3 separate regions of the Homo sapiens genome follow, and regions 1 and 3 are each linked to region 2. The links come from fine-mapping of genetic effects on gene expression. A gene starts in region 2. Each other region holds a variant in brackets. All regions are shown on one strand. Distances are between the middles of the regions.

What was found. PIP is the estimated chance that this variant, and not a neighbour inherited with it, causes the effect.
Region 1: its variant is the best candidate, but not a certain one, in a credible set for the expression of OLFML2A in amygdala (GTEx, PIP 0.53).
Region 3: its variant is the best candidate, but not a certain one, in a credible set for the expression of OLFML2A in pancreas (GTEx, PIP 0.84).

The regions. Positions count from the first base shown.
Region 1 is chr9:124,946,619-124,951,840 of GRCh38, reverse strand. It overlaps SCAI (suppressor of cancer cell invasion), which reads left to right. Exons shown (of 18, transcript NM_001144877.3): 18 at 1-5,222. It also overlaps a transcript of GOLGA1 not described here. Among named protein-coding and RNA genes, the nearest start is that of GOLGA1, 8.1 kb to the right of the region's middle. RefSeq lists an enhancer at 1,408-1,457. The variant T/C (reference allele first, on the strand shown) is at 2,799.
Region 2 is chr9:124,775,219-124,780,440 of GRCh38, reverse strand. OLFML2A (olfactomedin like 2A) reads right to left here and starts at 3,308. Exons shown (of 8, transcript NM_182487.4): 1 at 3,081-3,308. The coding sequence starts at 3,170. RefSeq lists silencers at 2,935-3,234, 3,305-3,404.
Region 3 is chr9:124,799,008-124,804,229 of GRCh38, reverse strand. OLFML2A (olfactomedin like 2A) reads right to left here. Exons shown (of 8, transcript NM_182487.4): 4 at 4,739-4,945; 5 at 2,567-2,816; 6 at 1-136. Among named protein-coding and RNA genes, the nearest start is that of OLFML2A, 24 kb to the right of the region's middle. RefSeq lists enhancers at 4,275-4,788, 4,789-5,222. The variant C/T (reference allele first, on the strand shown) is at 3,145.

The DNA.
Region 1 (5,222 bases), 170 kb before region 2:
ATTTATTAACATTCCCTGTATTTAGTATTTTATATTCATGCACAAAATTTTTATTATCTTAAATAGGACTCAGTGTATATTATAAAGATTTTTCTTTTTTGTGTTTTCCTTCCCTGTCATTCCCTTTATAATTTCACAGTCACTTGCTATGAAGTCCTCCCTCCTTTTTGATTATGCAGCATTCAATTTCAGAAATCTATGAATGAGAAGGCCTTATACCTAATTTTCTGTACAGGATCACATCTGGCAGTCCCAGGAGAAGTGAGCTGATTGCTTTTGATATCTCTTTCCCATGGCCCTAGGTAAATTATACTCTAAATTTATTTATTTTTTTTGAAACAGAGTCTTGCTTTTGTTGCCCAGGTTGGAGTGCAGTGGGGCTATCTCGGCTCACTGCAACCTCCGCCTCCCAGGTTCAAGCAATTTTCCTGCCTCAGCCTCCCGAGTAGCTGGGATTACAGGTGCCCGCCACCATGCCTGGCTAATTTTTGTATTTTTAGTAGAGACGGGGTTTCACCATGTTGGTCAGGCTGGTCTCAAACTCCTGACCTTGTGATCTGCCTGCCTCAGCCTCCCAAAGTGCTGGGATTACAGGCGTGAGCCACCGCACCTGGCTATTATTTTTAACTTGGTTTTCATTTCTGGCATAGAGACTAATTTGGGTCTAAGTTATTCCCATTCCTGCTTTGATTTGCTGATTTTTCAAACCTGAAGTCCAAAGTTACTGTTTTTGGGGTTTGGGGACTTGGGGAGTATTTTACTTTTTTTTTTTTTTTTTTTTAAGAGACAGAGTCTTGCTTTGTTGCCCAGGTTGGGGTGCAGCGGTACATTCATGGCTCACTGCAGCCTCAAATTCCTGGATTCAGGCAATCTTCTCACCTCAGCCTCCCAAGTAGCTGGGACTACAGGCATGCGCCACCATGCCTGGCTAATTTTCTTTATTTTTTAATTTTTTGTAGAGACATGGTCTCACTTTGTTGAGCAGGCTGGCCTCAAACTCCTGGGCTCAAGTGATCCTCCTGCCTCAACCTCCCAAAGTGCTAGGATTACAGGTGTGAGCCACTGTACCTGGCCTGTTTACTTTTTAAAAATTTTTTTGTTTGTTCTTTCAAACAGTATTTCAGAAAGCTTGGGAAAAGTTACCCTGGAAAGATTTCCTTTGCTAGTGGGTTTTCATTTTCAGGTAAAGACTGCTTTCCTTTTTTTTCAGTATCTTAATAAACTTCATAGCTTTCCTTTAGTAACAGTGTTCATTGAACTACAGCAATAGACTATCTTCGGTTTTCTGACCTCTTGTTTCAATTCCCCTTAAGTCCTGTGCCAGTTATGCTCCTACCAACACAGAGTTTCCTGTCCTCTAATGTTTAAAATAGTATTTACTGTTCTGAGCTTTATCCTCCCCCGTTAAGCATAAAGAACACTGGTCTGAGAACTAGGAGACCTAAGTTCTAGTCCTGGCTTTCCTGGTAACTTAAGCGTTATGCCCTTTGACAACTGTCTTCATGTCTCTGCTTGTTAGCACTCTCATCTGTAAAATGAAGAGGTTGGCCCAGGTCTTCTCCAACTCTGATTCTGTAATTTGGACTCTTGGTTCCAAAAATATTGATTTCCCCACTCCAACCACCAAGAGAACTATTTACCCTGTTTGTAGTGTACACAACCTTTTCTTTTGTAAGTCATATTTACCTAGATTTTGTTCAAGAAAATCTGGGTCCCACTTAGCTGTTTTAGAAACTAGTACAGACAGAGACTCTCCTGAGGAAATTAGAGCTTTTATGATTAGAAACATGCTTGTCTAAAAATGAGGGTCTTAGAAATCACAACATTGACCCTTATGATGTTGCCCCTTAAGCTAATAGTGTAATTCCTTACTGGTAGTTAAAAATCTAAAGTGGACTGAAGTGATCTTGAATCTTCAAAGAGAGGAAAACTGTGCTGGAAAATGTTATTGTTTCATTGATGCCTTCAAAAAAATGCGTATTAAACAAAGACTATACTCCAGATTTTCTTCTGGGCATTGGGGAAGCAAACAAAATAGACTTAAAAATCCTCATGTTCATGAAGCTTACATTCTAGTAGAAGGAGTAAGGCAATAAACATAAGTAATTTATGTTAGAAAATGTTAAGTAGGATGGAAAAGTGTAGATTATGGTAAGGTAAATCTTTTGTTTGTTTTCTTAAGAGAAGAACAATGTTTAAAAGAGTGATCAAGCAGGGCATGGTGGCATGACCCTATTAGTCCCAGCTACCTGGGAGGCCGAGGTGGGAGGGTCACTTGAGCCCAGGAGTTTGTGGCTGCAGTGAGCTGTGATTGCACCACTGCACTCCAGCCTGGATGGCAAAGCAAGACCTCGTCTCTGGAAAAAAAGAAAAGAAAAAGTGATGATCAGGGTAGGCTTCATTAGGAAGGTCACATTTGCATGAACACTTTGCCTTTTCTTTCTTTTTATGAAAGTTTTAAACATAGTTTTTTTGTTTTTTGTTTTTGAGACGGAGTTTCACTCTTGTTACTCAGGCTGCAGTGTGGTGGCAGGATCTCAGCTCACTGCAACCTCCACCTTCCAGTTTCAAGTGATTCTCCTGCCTCAGCCTCCCCAGTAGCTGGGATTACAGGCATGTGCCACCACACCCAGCTAATTTTGTGTTTTGAGATGGGGTTTCACCATGTTGGTCAGGCTGGTCTCGAACTCCTGATTTGAGGTGATCCGTTGGCCTCGGCCTCCCAAAGTGCTGGGATTACAGGCATGAGCCACCACGCCCAGCCTAAACATACAGTTTAATAAATCCTCCTTGTACCT[T/C]ACCCAGCTTCTGTATTTCTTTAATCAAGGGAGAAGAATTATCTAAAAGGACAGTTGCCCAATGGGCTTGAGCTGATGATAGTGGCAAAGAATTTCATTTTTTAAAAATGCATACCACCTGCCCTTTATAAAAAAATTTAAACCCTAATGTATTTAATTTTATAATTCATAAAAATTTAAATATTGGAACTAAGAACAGAGCAAAGCAAAGGGAAAAAGCACTCCTTTGTTTTCAAATTGCACAAACTGTCCCTGGAGATTCTGATAGTCTCTCATCTCTCTTAACTATCACTGTAAACAACATAGAAAGCATAAGACTGCAAGAAGTCAGTTATACACAAAACAAAATGAAGCACAGTGGAATTTTCTCTTTCTTTATCTGTATATTTCTGAAGTTGGTAAAGCAACTATCTTCTCTATTTTACAGAAGAGAAAGCTGAGACCCAAAAAGCTATTCATAGTGATAGAGCTAGAACTAAAACTCAGATCTCCTCATCTCAGCCCAGTCTTCTCAGTAGCTCAGACTGCTTTCTATAATGAACAAGAAAGAATAATTAGGGATTTGTATTTTGGCACAAAACAGTATCAAATTTTTATTGTAAAAATCCACAAATCTGACATTTTATCTTTTATTCTAGCCAGGATGTATTCTTCATTTGCATGTGTGTGTTTCTCTTAGAAAGTGGTGCTCTCAAACCTTTCAAAGCACAGAATTTATTGTACCCTCTTTATTTTTACCAAATTGAAACGTTTCAGGATTTCAGAAGCAAAGTGCAATCCAATTGTGGCTGGAGTTTTCCTGATAGAGGATCCGGGTGGTTCCCTCCCCTCCAACTTCTGGCTACTGCCCTTTATTTCCTTTGTGCAATAGAATTCCCTGAAACAGATTATGTCGTAATTATACTGATTTAGTCAGGATAATGGGAAAAGCGACAAATCGGATTTATGTATTAGGTATTATGGAGCTTTCTTTAGCACTCTCCTCCAAGTTTAATCTCTGACATGTGTGATATAGTAACTTTCTGTCTCTGAGAAGCAGTTTGGACCCAGCTGAAAAATTTTATTTATGGAGACTTGTAATCAGCCTGATATACAGAGAACACTCTGGACTGGAAATATAGTCAGGTACCAAGGTCTGCTAATTTGGCCATTGCCAGTGATTCAAAACCACCTCCCCACCCTGAGTAAAAGATTTGATATGAATATGAATGCTATGAGTCTCCTGGTGATGTTTTGGGTGTATATGTTCCTGTGTGTGTTTGGAAATCATAGAGGGTATTTACCTTGAGGGCTCTTTTGTTGACCTTATTTATTTGAAATTCTTATTTTATTTGTAATGGCATATGTATATTTTTGTGATGCTACATGCAATCTCTGTGTATACTTTTTGTATATATGTATACATATTTGTAAATATATTGGTATGCAGTGATACAGTATGTGTATATTATGTACCCATACCCATTGTGGGCTGAATTTATTTAAGTTCTGTGAGGACATCCTAGTGGCATTGTTCATGCTGCTGTAATTAGGTTGTGGCTGTATCTCATTCATAAGCCTCTATTTTGAGAGGCTTGTGTTTGGATAAAATGGGCTAATTTGGAGTTGAAATTAGGATATGAAGATCTTAACAGAAAGCTAGATATTTATTCTTAGCTTTAAAATCACCTGCAAATTTTTATTTAAACTGATGATAAATTAGTGATATAACCTGAAAAACCTAAGTATGTGAAACTGAGACACCAGCAGATTCTTAGGCTGTAGTAGTCCTTTATTTTCTTGATCCATATTTAAGTATTATTACTGAGTAGTAAATTATGTATATTGGGGCTTAATAGAGAGGCTGTGGAAAAAAATTGCTTTAATCACATTTAAAAACATAGGAAAATGTCCATTAAATAGGGGAAATATATTCCCAGTTGTCATTTTTATGCCTCATACTGAATTTTGATTTTGGAACAATTCTTTTTTCATCAGTGTTTTATGTGTCTCTATGAGGCAGAAAAGGGGGCATTAGCTAAGGGATGGCCTAACCTAAGTAGGATAGGATTTAGTGAGGAACGGGAGGTTGTTAATTTGTATATTTGCAGCAGCTATGATTAATTTAGTCCTGTCTTGGCATTTCCGGCTACAGATTTTTTCTTACTGGACTTGCATATCAAAGGTGAGTAGGCTCATCTGAGAAAATGCTTCCACTGAATAAAATGCCTTCACTCGTATTGCTGTGTCTCTATGAGACCACTTGTGTTCTGCAAGTTGATGATATATTCGCACATGAAGTAGAGTTTTTAATATTAGATGCATGGTGTGCTATAAAAATCTGGGCCTTCAAACCTCTCCCAAGGATGATAGGGTTGGGGAGGATAAGAGGATAGTAAATACGTGCAATGCCAATTTGTGAACCTATAGAATGTTGCCAAGTAT
Region 2 (5,222 bases):
CCTGGCTGGGCTCCCACAGTCCTTTGGGCTTCCCTCTGTCCTTGGGCCCCTGATCAGCAGGCTGACCAAAGACCCCCTCCCCACCCCTTGATGCTGGAGGGAGTGAGGCACCGGCAGCCCTTTCACAGATGGGGAAACTGAGGTAGAGATGGAAAATTCTCAGTCACATTCCAAGAACCCACAGCAAGAAGCAGCTCCCCAGAGGTCTGCGGTGCTATGCCTGGGTGTCATGTGGTTACCTGTCCATTCCAACCTCTGTGCTGGGCAGCCCTTCAGAAATACCAGGGAAGCTGTGGGGTCCCCCTCCTCCTCCCAGCCCCGACAAAGCACTTCCTTAGATGGAAACTCAAAATCCAGTTTAGGAGAGACCTAGTTATAAACATGAAATGAAAACACGTTGAGCAAGGAGCTGGCCAAGGAGACCAACAGAGTCCTGGGGTGAGCTGCCCTGGACCCCTGAATGTGCTGGGCCAGAGGGCAGACTAGAGCTCCCAGGAACAGGAAGCCCAAGGAGGGGCCAACTTAACCCTTTAGGGCCCTACATTGACTTCAAGTCCCAGGCTGGCCCTCCGAAGGGCTCATCCTCCACCCCAGGGAAAACGGAATGGGCTTGGAGAGGAAGGCGGGGTTGTGATGGGGGAAGGAGCGAGTGATAATGAAAACAGCTCTCTCTGCAGAGCCAGCAGGAGTCTGGCTCAGCTAAGGAATGCAGAGTAAATTCACCCATCACTTGATTTTTATTTTTCCCAGCTGGCTGAAGTGGTTTGGGGGTGGGAGGTGTCTGGGGGAGGGCTGTGCTGAGTCCCCCAGCTGTTCATCCTGCAAGCTCTAGGTTGTGCCTCTCCACCCCACCAGCCCCAGCTTGTCCTGGGACAGCTAAACACCCCCCCCCCACCACACACACACACAACCTAGCAAGTGTTTGGCTGACTCACTACACAAACAGGGTGTTGGGTTTTCTTTGTCTCTGCTTTGTTTAGAATGTGAGCTCTCCCCCACAAGCTCTACAGCTCTCTGCACAGACGATGCCCAACACCAAATATCCCTCCCAGCCAGAGATCCCAGTGGTGACAAGGCACTGATCAGGTTACCTAGGATTTTCTACTCACTTGTCATCATACCTGAGCCAGATCAGGGAATCCCAGAGGGCCCCATATGGAAGGAAGGTTGGGGAGATGTTTCTTAGATGAAGAAACTGAAGCCCAGAGACAGGCAGTGATTTGCCCAAGGTCACACAGCAGAAGAATAGCAGAGGAAGGCCAGAACCTAGGGTTTTAAATGTACAAGCCAGCTGCCTCTGTAAACACCCTAGTTTCCCCACCTGTAAATTAGAAAAAATACTCATTCCCTCCTTGTCTCTGGAGTACATGAGCAGCGTTGTACGTGGGTGCTTTCATGCCCTGAGCTGAATCAGGCTGAGAGTTGGCCAGTGCCCACTGCTCATATACTCACCGTGTGGCTAGTGGCTTCTGTCTTTTATCTGTCCGTGGGCAGGCAGGACACTCACATTCTACCAGGAAAGAGGCTGGAGAGGTATTGGAAGTCACTTTTTTGCCCTCACGCTCTGTGACCAGGGCTCTGGTCCTGCTCCTCACTCTCCCCAAGGTCTGTCCGTTTTTTTTTTTGTTTGTTTTGTTTTGTTTTAAGACACAATCTTGCTCTGTTCCCCAGGTTGGAGTGCACTGGCGCAATCTCCACTGACTGCAACCTCCGCCTGCTGGGTTCAAGCGATTCTCCTGCTTCAGCCTCCCGAGTAGCTGGGATTACAGGTGTGCACCACCACACCTGGCTAATTTAATTTAATTTTTTTTTTTTTTATAGAGACGGGGTCTCACTCTGTTGCCTAGACTGGTCTTGTGCCACTGCGCCCAGCTAATTTTTGTATTTTTAGTAGAGATGGGGTTTCACCATATTGGCCAGGCTGGTCCTGAACTCCTGGCCTCAAGCGATCCACCTGCCTTGGCCTCCCAAAGTGCTAGGATTACAGGTGTGAGCCACTGAACCTGGCCATCAGGGAGTCATTTCCAGAACACCCCAAGTGCTCTGGTGCTAAGTATTTTTTTTTTTTCTTTTTTTTTTTGACACGGAGTCTCGCTCTGTCGCCCAGGCTGGAGTGCAGTGGCGCGATCTCGGCTCACTGCAAGCTCCGCCTCCCGGGTTCACGCCATTCTCCTACCTCAGCTTCCGGAGTAGCTGGGACTACAGGCGCCCACCACCATGCCTGGCTACTTTTTTTTGTATTTTTAGTAGAGACGGGGTTTCACCGTGTTAGCCAGGATGGTCTCGATCTCCTGACCTTGTGATCCGCCCGTCTCGGCCTCCCAAAGTGCTGGGATTACAGGCGTGAGCCACCGCGCCCGGCCTAGTGCTAAGTACTTTACAGGCATGACCACACCGCATCTAGAGACCATCAACTGCAGGAAGTGGGTCCCATGATTCTCCCTGTATCTACAGGTGAATAGACGGAGGCTCAGATGGGCGATGGCGGATGAGAAGCGGATGTGCGACTGAACCCAGGTCGGCTTGACACCAGAGCAGATCCTCTTAGCCACAGCAGAGAACAGCTCAGACCACTTCTGGAGCTACCTAGTCCTCCAGGGGGTGCACCCGGTCCCTGGCAAGAACATCAGAGGCCAGGCGAGTGGCCAGCGCGGCTGCGTTCATCGGGTAGAGAAGACCCCCAGTCCCCAGCGGGCCGTGAAAGCCGTGGCCCAGGGCTTGCTGCAAGCCTGGGAGTCGTTGGGTAACAGTTGCCAGGAGCTTCCCCTACGAACCCCGAGTCTGGCCAGCACTCCGGGGAAATCCCCCGACCCCTCCGGGAATCGGACCCGGTCCCAGCGCCCCTTCCTCAGGCCCCGGGTCCCTAGCATCCCTACATCTCCAGCGCTTGTTCCTCCACGCGCCCCTCTCTCGGGGCCCCTGCCCCTGCGGCTTCAGTGCTGAGAAGTCCCAGGTTCGGTCTCTCAGCTCCCGGCTCCTCCGCCCTGGCCCCGGGCTCCCTCCCGGGCCGCACCCCAGCCACAGCGCCCCCTCGCGCCCCGCTACCCGCCGAGCCGCGCGGGTCCGAGGGGCGTGCGTACCTTACTGTCGGCGCGCGTGGGGCGGCCGCTCAGCAGCAGCACTAGCGGCAGAAGGAGCAGCGGCCGGGGCGGGAGGGCGGCAGCGGCCATGGCGCCACGGGCACGGTAGGCACAGGCGGCCGGGCACGGACGCTGGGAAGCGCGGGCTGCACTGCGAGCTCCGCGCCTTCGCCCGCTCTGCCTGCCCCGCGCCCCGCGCCTGCACCCTGCTGCCAGCCCCGCGGGTCTTCCAGCGCCGCCAGGGGCGGAGCTAGGGCGGAGGGGGCACCCCGCCCCGCCCCGCCCGCCGTTCGCGGGGCCTCCCCGTCGTCGGGCGGCTCTCCCAAGGGCATCCCTGCCCGCGCGCCAGGGTGGGTCTCGATCGCAGCCGGCAGGAGCAACGGGGCCAGGGCGAGGCGCGTGGGCTCCTCTCACGGACTCAGGTCCTGTCCTGTGAGTCGTGGGACCTTGGGCGTGTCCCTTCACCTGTGTGCCTCAGTTTCCTCATCTGTAAGATGGGGGACTCGTGCTTTCCTTTTGGAGTGTTTGTAAAGTTCGCATGAGAGACGGATGTTCCCAGGGCACGTGAGCCCTTGCGCTCTCCGATTTCACCCACTTCTGGACAGGGACCTGACTGCTGTAAGCCTTCCCAAGGCTCAGCAACCCCAACCTGTCTTCCGTCTTTCATTTCTCCTTCCCTCTGGAATCCCTCCTGTCGGCTCCCAAACTCCAGTAGCTTCCGGCTTTTAAATTTTTATTTTTCTCACTCTGTTGCCCAGGCCGTAGTGCAGTGGTGCGATCCCAGCTCACTACAGCCTTGACCTTCCCAGCTCAAGTGATCCTCCCACCTCAGCCTCCTGAGTAGCTGAAACTACAGGTGTGCACCACTACACCTGGCTAATTTAAAGTTTTTTTTTTTTTTGCAGAGACGGGGTCTCACTCTGTTGCCTAGACTGGTCTTGAACTTCTGGGCTCAAGCAATCCTCCCACCTTGGCCTCCGAAAGTGTTGAGATTACAGGCATGAGCCACTGCACCCAGCATTTCCTTTTTTTTTTTTGACTGGGTCTTCCTTTGTCACCCAGGCTGGAGTGCTGTGTTGCGAATACAGCTCACTGTATCGTCAACTTTCCAGCTCAAGCTATCCTCCTCCCTCAGCCTTCTGAATAACTTGGACTACAGGCATGTGCCACCATGCTGGCTAATTTCTGTATTTATTTTAGGGATGGGGTCTTCTGTGTTGCCCAGGCTCTCAAACTCCCGGGCTCAAGCAATCCAGCCACCCTAGTCTCTCAAAGTGTTGGGATTACAAGTGTGAGCCACCATGCTTGGTCTCATTTTCTTCATAGAATTTATTGCTCAATGGGACTGTCTTTCTTGTTGGTGTGTTTGTTTCCTTGTGTTGGAGCATGACTTCCTAGGGCACATTCTTAGTTTCTCCCCATGAACATTGAACTCAGTGGTTCTCAAAGTGTGGTCCTTGGTCTCAGCCTCCGCATCATCGGATAACTTGTTAAAAATGCAAACTCTCCCAGCCTGGGCAACATGGTGAAAACTCGCCTCTACTAAAAATACAAAAATTAGGCTGATGTGGTGGTGCATGCCTATAATCCCAGCTACTCGGGAGGCTGGGGCAGGAGAATCGCTTGTGAACCCGGGAGGCAGAGGTTGCAGTGAGCCGAGATGGCACCACTGCACTCCAGCCTGGGCAAGAGTGACACTCTGTCTCAAAAACAAACAAACAAACCCAAAAAACAAAACTTAGCTGGGCGTGGTGGCACATGCCTGTAGTCCCAGCTACTTGGGAGGCTGAGGCACAAAAATCACTTGAACCCAGGAGGCAGAGGCTGTAGTGAGCCAAGATCGTGACACTGTACTCCAGCCTGGGTGACAGAGCGAGACCTTCTCAAAGAAAAAAAAAAGAAAAAGAAATGCAAATTCTTAGGCCCCACTACAGACTCACAAAATCAGAAACTCTGGGCATGGAGTCCAGCAATCTGTGTTTTAACACACCCTCCAGGGCTCCAGGGGGCTTAGGGTTTGAGAACCACTGACCTGGCACAAGGTACGGTGCTCTACAACTCTCAGCTGAATTAAAGAACCCTGTGCAAAGCACACACTGAGTACAAATAAGCTGCTGCTGCTTCTTTTTTTTTTTTTTTTTC
Region 3 (5,222 bases), 24 kb before region 2:
GAAGCCAGGTCCACTCGCTCGGAGGACCTGGGCTCAGCCTCATCCTGCTCTGCGGAGTTGGGCTCTGCGGAGTTGGACCTGCCCTCCACCTTGGGCGGCAGTTGCTCCAGCCAGGAAGTGCCCTGGAGGGTGTTGTCTGCAGAGAGAAGACCCCTGTGCTCAAATCTCAGCACCACCTGCTGCCGTGTGGGTCTCCCTAAGGTCCACTGGGCCCCCATCTCAGGGGCCCTCAGGGAGTGGAGGGGGAGGCCTCCTCAGGGCCTCCTCACACCTGGAGGGGGGTGAAAGGTCTCCAAATGGGAGGCAGGGAGGACTTCACAGCCAGGGCTCTAAACCCAGCCAGGTGGCCTCAGCCATGTCCCCCTGCCTTCCTGGGCCACCTCTGTGAACTGAGAGTCAGGAGCCCACCATGCTGGACTGTGGTGTTGACTACAGAAAAATGTACATAAACATTTGCACAGATCCCAGCAAATACGAGGTACCAAAAAGGAGATCCCTTTCCTTCCTATGCATCAAGCACTTTGTACCAGTTCTCTCATTTGCTAGATTCAATTCTAGAGAGAAGCTCTTGTTCCCGTTTTACAGGCCTTCTCCTATTATTCTGCCATGGAAAATGCAGCTGCTGCCAGAATCAAATGAGACGGCATGAACGAAAGTGCTTAGAGGGTTGGGCGCAGTGGCTGGTGCCTGTAATCCCAGCATTTTGGGAGGCTGAGGCCGGCAGATCGCTTGAGCCCAGGAGTTCAAGACCAGCCTGGCCAACATGGCAAAACCCTGTCTCTACTAAAAAATAGAAAAAATTAGCCAGGTGTGGTGATGGGCCCCTGTAGTCCCAGCTATTAGGGAGGCTGAGGAGGGAAGATCACTTGAGCCCAGGAGGTCAAGGCTGCAGTGAGCCATGATCGTGCCACTACACTGCAACCTGGGTGACAGAGTGAGACCCTGTCTCAAAAGAAAAAAAGAAAGAAAGGAAGGAAGGAAGGAAGGGTTTAGGGAAACACTTTTACACTTTTGTGACACCGGCCGGGCGCGGTGGCTCATGCCTGTAATCCCAGCACTTTGGGAGGCCAAAGTGGATGGATCACCTGAGGTCAGGAGTTCGAGACCAGCTTGGCCAACATGACGAAACCCCGTCTCTACTAAAAATACAAAAATTAGTCGGGCATGGTGGCACGTGCCTGTAATCCCAGCTACTTGGGAGGCTGAGGCGAGAGAATTGCTTGAATCCAGGAGGCAGAGGGTGCAGTGAGCTGAGATTGCACCGCTGCACCACTGCCTAGGTGACAACAGCGAAACTCTGTCTCAAAAAAAAAAAAATTGTGACACCAGGGAGACAAAGGAATGGTGCTGTTATTACTATGATGGTCTGGTGCCCAGGGGACCTCCTGGTCAGCTGGGTGAGGGGCTCAGAGAACCCTTGACTTGAGGACAATAACTTCTTCCTTTTTTCTCCATTTTGGGCTTCCTCTTTGCACAGGCCCTGCTGTGGGCAGCCTGGGCCCTGGCGGGGAAGGGGGTCATCCCCCTGGTCGAGGAGGACCACAGGGAGGCCTGGCCTAAGCAGCCTGCCAGGGCAGGGTGCCTGTTCCCACAGGCCTTGCTGGCAGAGTCAGATGCCTGCAGCTGTTCTTAGGCAGTGCCCCAGCCAGGGGTCAGAGGCTCTGTGCCATGTCCAGACCAAGCTGGCAGGGCTTGGGCCAGCAGCTGGGACCAGGGTAAAGAGGCCCCTGAGTCCTGAGAGGCCAAGAAACAAGAGGGCTCTCAAAGGAGCCTGGTCCCTGACTGTTTCACCTCCTTGCGCCCCTTGCACATGGGCTGGAAGGAGGGCTTTGCAGGAGGAGGTGGTCAGCAGGACCTAGGAAGGGGAGGAGCAGGTTTGGGACACCCCTCTGGGACATCAGAAGAGAGCAGCCATCTGGGGCGGGTCTTAGTGGGGGAATCAAGAACCACAACCCGTAGAGATGGCTCAGAAATTTGGGGTATCTTGAAACGTGTGTCTCTTGTTTGCCAATTACTTTGTCACCCTTCTCTGTGATGCAGCAGAGAGCTGCAGGAAAAATACAAGAGTCTGTGGGCTCTTCCTTGGGGATATAAGAAGAGGGAGGAGCTGGAGAGGAAATGAGAGATGCCCTGAAAGCCCTTGTCACTTCTCAGGAGCCCGGTATTCTCCTGCCCCTCACTGTGGCAGCTGCCTGGTCATAGGTATTTTTTCTCACTAGACTGTGAGATCTGTGGGGACAGGGACTGTGTCTCTACCATTCCCTGTCACCTGGTCAGAGCGGACCTTCAGCACATTTTCAAAAGCACAAAGAAAAGTCCAGTGAAGGTGAAGACAGCTGTAAATACTGAAAAGCCACTGAGTGGCCCTGCAGGTTGGTTCTGCCATCTCATCCCAATGACCCCCTGAGTGGGGTGTTATCCTCATATGTGAATGAGCAGAGGGCACCCAACAGGTAATCAATGGGTGGAACTGAATCTGGGGTGGTCCCACTGCAGAGAAGATGAGGGGATTCCTAGGAGGCATCCATCCCTGACTCCCCAGGGTCCCCATTCCCCTCCTACTCACCTGCCACCGCCTCGGTCACCTCCTGCTTGCCTGCCTTGTAGTAGGTGAAGCCCCGGATCACAGCCTGCTGCTGGGCCAGGGCGCGGGGCTTGGCTGTGGGCTGGAGGAAACTGCCCTTGCCGCTCTCCTTTCTCAGCTTCTCCACCTGAAGCAGCTTCTCCTTGGGAGGTTTTGGGAGGCCTCTGTCTGCAAAGCTTTTCTGCACACTGCCATACTTGCTGATGTCCTTGCCTTTTCCTCTAGCTGTGTCCTGGGAGGGAAGAGAAGTCTCAGACTTGAAGGACAGTAGAAGAAATGTTGTGGGGAGTCCTGGGGGCTCAGCATGTGGGGACTGGAGGTGGCCATGTTGCCCCAGGCCCTATGTCCCAAGCACTCACAAAGTCACAGCTTTCCTTTACCCCACCATGGTGGCTACATCCATGACTGGTTTGCCTCAGTTTCCTCACCCAGCTCTTTAGCTCCCTTGCAGGCTTGAAGTCCAACCTGATAGGTTAGATTCCTGTCCCACTTCTCAACTCCTGTCCAATCCCCCTGGGGGGCAGGCTAGAAGGACCAGCTCCCTGGGAGGCAGCCTCCTC[C/T]ACCTGCTCACCTTCCCAGCCTTGTCTCTCTTACTCATTGGTCTTAGTACGTGGGCAGGGGAGAGGTTCTTAGGCACCTAGGCAAGGTGACCAACTCATCCCAGAGTGCCTGGAACATTCCTAGTTTTAGCACTGAAAGTGCTGCATCCTGGAAAAACCCTCAAGTCCCAGGCAAACTGGGACAGGGTTGGTCACCCAACCTCTAGGATATGCCATTTCTAACTTTTTGTGTTTTGTTATTTTCACTTCCTATTTAAATGCCTCCGATGCTGGCTTGGCACAAGAACACAGGGCCTGTGACATCACTCATCGTTAGGCAGAAGCTCCAGCAGATACGGCAAGTACAGTAGCTGGGTGCCTTCTGCACCATTGCCAAAACACGCTTCATTCTCGCCTGCGGAATTGGCACGGGAATGAGCAGGAAGCCAGCTGGGGGCCAAGGCACAGGCTTCCTAGCTGCTTTATCGGCATCTAGGCAGTCCCAGTTGCAGACACAAATGGCCGCATTATCACAATGTCAGCAAAGGAGACCGAGATGTGGAGAAGAAGAGAGGAAGAGGGTGGGCTTGGCAGTCACGCAGACCTGGCTGCCAGTCCCAGCTCCGCCACCGCCTCTCCATGTGACCTCTCTCCATGCCTCATCTGCCAAATGGGCAGGGGTCGCCCCTCCTCCCAGGTGACTATGGGGTTCACTGACAATGTCTGTGAGAAAGTCAAGTTTAAAGTAGGAATTCCACAAATGTCAGCTCCCTTCTTCAGCCACTCACCAAAACACAAGGCCAGTGTGAACAATGGTGTGGCTTGTGTCTTGCCCAAGGGTGACTGGCCAGAGGAGCCTGAATGGGGTTGAATCCAGTCTGCACTCCATTTGCCAAGCCACATACCCAGCAAAGGCAGGAGCCTCTGTGCAACCGGCTCACCCAAAAGTGGTTGTTCCTTCTAATTGATCTGCTCAGAGGGAGAACCAGCTTCACAGTTCATCTGCCTACAGAGAGGACGTTTATCACATTTGCACGCAGGTGTGTTATCTGTCATGGGTGGCTCTGCCTAGTGACAGAACCAGTGCCTCTGCTCACTCTGCTCTGAGCTTGGAGGTCGAGTGCCTGGGTATTGGCTGCAGGGGTTCTGTACCCCAGGGTGGGTTGGATGAATGGGTATCAGTCTGCAGGGGTCCCTGAGGCATTGCCCACCTCCCTCTGAGCAGGCTCAACCCAGCCACAGCAGGGGAGGCTAGAAGTGGTTTTGCTGCAGCCAACCTGGTCTCTGAGGGCCAGGCAGGGGGCACCACCTCCACAAGCTTGTCCCTACTAGTTTCAAGCTTGGGAATGAGAAGGATGCCAAACACCTGGCTTAGGGACCAGCCCCCTTGGCAGGATCCCCAGGCCTATCCCCCATTCCCTGTGCTGACTGTGCTTGCTGTACAGCAGGTATCCCCTGCACCTCACCCTGCCAGGGACTCTCTGGCTGTGCCAGTCCTCAACCCCATCTTACAGCCCCAAACCCCCATCGAGCTGATCCACAGGGCCAACGTCCTGGCACACTGAGCTCCCAAGTTCAGCCAGCTCCGGCCCCATGATCAGAGCTGGGGCCTCACCTGGGCCTTGCTACCAGTGCCCGTGGCAGGGGTGGCAGGGGCGGCGGCGGCATCCTTCTGCAGCAGCTGGAGGCCCAGGCGGGACAGCTCCTTCTTGATGCCCAGCATGATGGCAGAGTGATTCTCATAGTGCCTCAACTGCTCACTGAGGTGGCGCACGCTGTCCTTCACCACCTCATTCTCCCGGCTCAGGTTGGCCTTGATGCTCTGCGGAGGGGGCAGGATTGGAGGTCTTTCCTGGGCCAGCTTCCTCTGAACCCCTAGCCTGGAGGGACACCCCAGCTTTGGTCATTAGGCTTTGCTGCCCAGTCCCCCGAACGGGCTAGGGGCGGCCGCAGTGAGCATGAGCAGGAAAAATAGGCTCCAAGAGACCCTGTGTTTATGAACTTTTTAAATTTAAAAAGTGAAGGAATTAAAAAAATAGATAATACATGTGCATGGTACTAAATGTAAAAGATATCAACGGCTATAAAAAGTCACCCTC